Linked DNA regions of Homo sapiens: region 2 is linked to region 1. A link means that fine-mapping ties the variant in region 1 to the expression of a gene that starts in the linked region. Tissue or cell type: whole blood. Region 1 holds a variant in brackets; the other region holds the start of a gene. Each region is shown on its reference strand, or each on the opposite one.

Region 1 (2,918 bases):
CTCCGACCTCCTTATCCATCAGAGGGTCCACACTGGAGAGAAACCCTATAAATGTGCTGAGTGTGGCAAAGGCTTCAGTTACAGCTCAGGGCTTCTCATTCACCAGAGAGTCCACACAGGCGAGAAACCTTACAGATGCCAAGAGTGCGGAAAGGGCTTTAGGTGCACATCAAGCCTTCACAAACATCAGCGAGTCCACACGGGAAAAAAGCCCTATACGTGTGATCAGTGTGGCAAGGGATTCAGTTATGGCTCTAATCTTCGCACCCACCAGAGGTTGCACACAGGAGAGAAACCCTACACTTGTTGTGAATGTGGGAAGGGTTTCAGATATGGCTCAGGTCTCCTTAGTCATAAGAGAGTGCACACTGGCGAGAAGCCATACAGATGCCACGTGTGTGGGAAGGGCTATAGTCAGAGCTCACATCTTCAAGGTCATCAGAGGGTCCACACTGGTGAGAAACCCTATAAATGTGAGGAGTGTGGGAAGGGCTTTGGCCGCAACTCCTGTCTTCATGTTCATCAGAGAGTCCACACTGGAGAGAAGCCCTATACGTGTGGTGTGTGTGGGAAAGGCTTCAGTTATACCTCAGGTCTGCGGAACCACCAAAGAGTGCATTTAGGCGAGAACCCTTATAAGTAGATGTACATAGAGGATTCCATCTGGGACTCAGAGCTTTCTATCCATCTGAGAGCCAACACAGGAGAAAAACCATAGGAAAGTGACATGTAGGAGGGCTATAGGAGAAACTGATGATTTTACATTTTCTAGTCTGCATAGGAAGGGAACACCTGGATGTGTGATAAATAGGTTAGCACTTCAGTTACAAACTTCAGTCTTTAAGAGTCTGTTGTGCAGCGGAGTAGGCTTTAAAGAAACAGTGCAGCAGTGGTTTCAGTAATAATCCTCACTTCCATCAGAATCTGCCTGGGAGGGAGCTTTTACAATGTACAAGTGGTGAGAATGTTTCCAAGGTGCTAATTATGGACATAGATTCTTTGTGTGGGTTGATAGCTACCAATGGGACAGTGTAGAAACAAGTTTCCACCTTTCTAAAACCAGTTTGGTACATATCTTTTTAAAGATCGCTTTATAAAAACAAAAAGATAACATTAACATTTATTGAAACAAGTCACTCTGAGAAGACCAGGAACAAAGTTCTCTTGGCAGATCTGGGTGATGTGTGTGTCTCACATTTTTATCATGTTTTTATGACTGTTTTATCTTGCAGGTAAGCTTTACAGCTTTCAGAGGAGTTGTAGTACACTACAGAAATATGTCTTCTTTCCAGGTTCAAAAAGCAAAATCTGATTGGCATTGCATTGAATTATTAATTAAATAAATTTATTAATTGGCATTGCATTGAATTTATAGGTTAATTTTGAAAGAATGTGGCGTCTTTGAAATGCTGATTTTTTTTCACTTTAAAAAAATGACTTTTTTTTTACCACTGATAGTATTTCATATGGTCCCTCAGTAATATTTCTTAGAGATGGTTAAAAATAGGTTCTGAGTCATCTTAAGCATATTTCTAGGAATTTGTTTTATTGCTGTCATGAATATAATGGTTTTGCTCCAGTTCATTTCATAGTTTAACATATCAAATATTAGGTATCTTAAAAATCACAAATGCTATTTCACCCTGCAGGTTAGCAGTATTAAAATAGAATCATCAAATCCCCCATCAGTGGGGGCGGGGGGGGGGGTTGTAGAAACAGTCTGATATGGTTTGGCTCTTGTCCCCACCCAAATCTCATCTCAATTTTAATCCCCACGTGTCAGAGGAGGGCCTTGGTGGGAGATGA[T/C]TGGATCACGAGGGCAGATTTCTCCCTTGCTGTTCTCATGATAGTGAGTTCTCATGAGAGCTGATGGTTTTAAGGTGTAGCCCTTCCTCGCTGTCTCTCTCCTGTCCCCTTGTGAAGAAGGTCCTTATTTCTCTTTTGCGTTCTGCCATGACTAAGTTTTCGGAGGCCTCCCCAGCCATGTGGAACTGTGTGTGAGTTAAACCTCTTTCCTTTGCAAATTACCTAGTCTCAGGTAGTTCTTTATAGCAGTGCAAAAATGGACGTAATAAGTCTTATGTACTTATTGGTGAGAGAGAAAATCCGTGCATTGTTTTCAAAAGAATTCATTAACGTATCAATTCAATTTCTATAACCTTTGAAGTGGCAGTAAATATGTAGTAATTGATACTTGGGAGATAGTTGCCCACTTGGGCAAAAACGCATGCAGAAGGTGGAGTTTTTAAATTTAAAACATTTTTAAAATAGCAAATGTTAATATTCCAGTTTCCATTGGTAGGAAATTTTTTAGATAAGTTCAGGCATATGTATGCAATGGAAAGCCACTAGAAATCTTCAGGCACACAGATAATGACAATGCAGGTTGCTCATGAAGTATTTAGTGAACCAGGAGAGTTTTAGAACAACAATTATAGCATGACCCCATTTTGTTAGTATGTTTTTCTGTGTGTATGTTTAGAGCAACAGAGAAAAAAAGATGTGGGAGAGGACATATAACTACTTATCTCTAGTGGTGGGATTCTGAATGTATAATACATATGTTGTACTTTTATGTATTTTACTTTGTAACAAAGTATCTTTCAGTTTTATAATAACAGTAGAGCTATTTTTTATAAATTAGCCTGATGGAACAATCCCTTATGATTAAAGATTCATGTTGTAACCTCTATAACTTTTTTGGCTTTTTCTCCTGTTCACCCAACTCCCTGTACCAAAGATAAGGCATACAAATGAGTGATGTAAATATTCTCAGAGGCTACATCATTTTTGCTGGCTGGTAGGAGATGAGGCAGTCTAGATAATTAGGAGCCACGGTGTTTCCATTTTTCAGTCCTGCCTTCTTGAACTAGTGAGCCCACAAGCCTGGTTTTGTAGAGGGCAGCACACCATCATGT
Region 2 (2,918 bases), not on the chromosome of region 1:
ACCGGGAGCCCCAGCAGAGCTCAGAGAGAAGAAAGTGGCATTCTGGAATCCATTTTGCTCAAGATGCTGAAGGCATGGTGTCAAACTCCCCTTTGCTACTGGGGCCAAAAAACTTGGGGAAGATCTTACCTACAGGGATGCGGTTAGTTGGGGAAAAGGCGAGGACCAATCCTGGTGCTCATGCTACCTAAGGAGAGCAGACAGGTGCGTGGCCTCCCTTGGGACCCACCCGCAGGAAAAAGCTGGGCTAGCGGTGGCTGCGGGGGCCCACCCCGGGCGCTGCTTCCGCATTTTGGACCCAGGTCCACTGGTGAGCAGTAGCAGCAGCAGCCATAGCCAGGCCAGCTGGGTCCCCTTCCAGTCATTTCTAGGTGAGATTTACGATGTATGCTAGCGAAGGGACAAGAGATGATTATGGCCTTTGAAAGGCATAATCCTGAAAGTCACACTTTTTCCAAAGCGCCTCCCTCCCGGGTTCTCCCCAGAGCAACACAGTCACAGCAGGAGAATCTGCACCGCGGGAGCGCCGCAGTGGTCCGCGGAGGGACCGGGCCGAAGAACGGGGACCGCGGCGCGGGGGGCGCGGCGCGGCTCACCTGCCAGGCTGTTGTAACAGTCGATCTCGATGGCTTCCACCGTCTTGCTCTGCTCCTCCGAGAGGCGGCCGGGCTTCAGGGCCCCAGCCGGGGAGGCCGGGCGCGAGTCCCGCTCCCGTTCCCCGGGGGGCGGCAGCAGCCCCTTCAGCTCCAGCAACGCCCGGTGGTATTTGCCTATGGCTTCACGGAATTTCTTGTCCTTGTAGCACTGCGCCCCTTGGCTTTTGAACTCGTGCGCTCGTCGGATGAGCTCGGCCGGCTCGGCCGCCGCCCCGACCTGGCCCCTCGCTGGGGCTCCTCCGCCGCCGCCCGGGACGCACAGCGGCGGCGGTGGCCGCTGCCCCTCTCCGGCCGCGGGCGGGCTCGGGTTCCCCTTGGCCCCGGCCGCCGAGCCCTTTCTCTCCATTCGGCCGCCGCCCCGGCGCCTGGTGCGCGCCGCGATCTGCCCGCCGCCGCCGCCGCCGCCGCGCCTTCCCGGGTTTAAAAGCCGCGGGCGCCGGCCCCGCGCCTCGCAGGCTTCGTGGCGGCCGTGACACCCCGCGGCGGTCTGGCGCCCCGCACTCCCATTCTCCCCGCTGCTGCCAGAGGCTGCTCCAGCCGCCGCCGCCGCCGCCTCGGACGCCGGCCCCTCCCCCGCCTCCCGGCTCCGCGCCGCCCGCTCCCGCCCTCCTCCCTCCGCAACCTGCGGGTGGCGGGGGCCGGTGCTCGCGGGCCCGGGACTAGCGCTGCGGGGGGACCGTGGCCCCGAGTGGGGTGGCGGGGATGGTCGCTGACCCGGAAGAAGCTTGGCTTGCCCGAAGGAGGGGAGGATTAATGACAAAGACGGCCCCGCTCTTTCCCATTCAATCCCGCTCTGCGAGGCGCGCCTAGTCTGAAAGGAGGTGGGGGGAGGGGGGTAGGTGTAGGGGAAGGGGAGTGTGTGTGTGTGCGTGTGTGTGTGTGTGTGTGCGTGCGTGTAGGGATGGGGGGCGGCGGCGACGAAATGCGTGCAGAAATAGATTTCTTAACTACAAGAAAAGGTGCGGCAGGGAACAAGGGGCGCAGGCGCAAGCCGTAGCTGCTAGTTCTTTGCAGTAAGGTGTTAGTATTTTTTAAGGGGGCAGGGCCTCCTTTTTGTGGATCCAGGTTGTCGCTGAGGTGTGTCTCGGTGTGTGTGGTCGCCGGGGCGTCCAGAACGCGACGGGCGGTACAGCGTGTGGGGCGCCGTATTCTGGGAGCCTGTGTATGCGTGTGCTGTGTGCGCGCAGCTGTGCAGGATGAATCACAGACATCAGAGATGGAGAACACCTGTTACTGTGGGTCATCGGCTTGGCGTGCGTCCGGTCTAGTTTCCATTTACAGGACAGTTCTGTGCCCTTCCTCAGGAGGTCCCATTCCTTCCTTCTTTTGGTCGGTTCTGAGTGTCAGCTGTCTACTGGGGATCTGCTAAGGCTAAGAGGCAAAGATAGGCAAGTCACTCCCCTGACCTCAAGAAACTCCCAGTCTACAGGCGAAGATACACCACCCACCGGTAGAGTCGCTGGACCAGGTACAGATGGTGCCTGTCATTGGGGAGGAACGAAAAGTGCTGTGCAGCCCTGAGGGGGGGAGGGAGAGGTAGCTTTTTGAGTAGTGGTAGATCAGGAGGCTTTATGGAGGAAATAGCATTTGAGGACCTTGAAGGCTGGGTAGGATTTGGCATGAAGAAGTAGAAGGAAGTGGCATAGCCGGAGTGAGGAAATCCAGCGGAAGTCCTGATGTTTGAAATCTCAGGTGTGTTTAGGGCATAGTGGTTTGATTTTATAGCCTAATGAGAAGTAGTGGGAAATGACGGGGTTGGATTATGGGGGCTTTTGGATGAAGAGTTTGGATTTGATTTTGGAGTCAATGGAGAAGCCTGACATATTTTTTAGTGCCCTCCCTTCCTTAATGTTAAGAAAAAGAAAGATTCTAGAGCACCGGTTGTCAGAGTGCTGGCCCCAGACCTGCAGTGTCAGCATCACCTGGGAAACAGTTAGAAATGCAAATCCTAGGATCCTACTCCAGACTTAAGAAATCAGAAACTCTGAGGGTGGGTCTCAGTTAACCAGTATATTGGTTCAGATATGCTGCTTTAAAACCTTCCTACTCAAAATGTAGACCTTGGGCCAATATCATCAGCATCACAGGAGAACCTATCAGAAATGCAGAATCTGAAAATCCCACACCTACTAACCCAGAAGCTGCATTTTAACGAGCATACTGGGTGATTTGTTTACCTATTAAAGTGTGAGAAACACTGCTGTAGAGACTTTGGAAAATACAGTAAAGTATAAAGAACCCCCCAGTCTACACCCAGTTGTA

Evidence for each region.
Region 2: it holds the start of TTC9, and the variant in region 1 is fine-mapped to the expression of TTC9 in whole blood (TOPMed, PIP 0.98).

What each region holds. Positions count from the first base shown.
Region 1 is chr19:44,426,028-44,428,945 of GRCh38, reverse strand. It overlaps ZNF229 (zinc finger protein 229), which reads left to right. Exons shown (of 6, transcript NM_014518.4): 6 at 1-2,692. The coding sequence ends at 643. Among named protein-coding and RNA genes, the nearest start is that of ZNF229, 21 kb to the left of the region's middle. The variant T/C (reference allele first, on the strand shown) is at 1,807.
Region 2 is chr14:70,640,214-70,643,131 of GRCh38, reverse strand. It overlaps TTC9 (tetratricopeptide repeat domain 9), which reads right to left and starts at 1,216. Exons shown (of 3, transcript NM_015351.2): 1 at 597-1,216. The coding sequence starts at 1,002. It overlaps TTC9-DT (TTC9 divergent transcript), which reads left to right and starts at 1,834. Exons shown (of 3, transcript NR_110071.1): 1 at 1,834-2,124. RefSeq lists silencers at 662-731, 752-941, 1,162-1,311 and enhancers at 1,782-2,041, 2,142-2,321.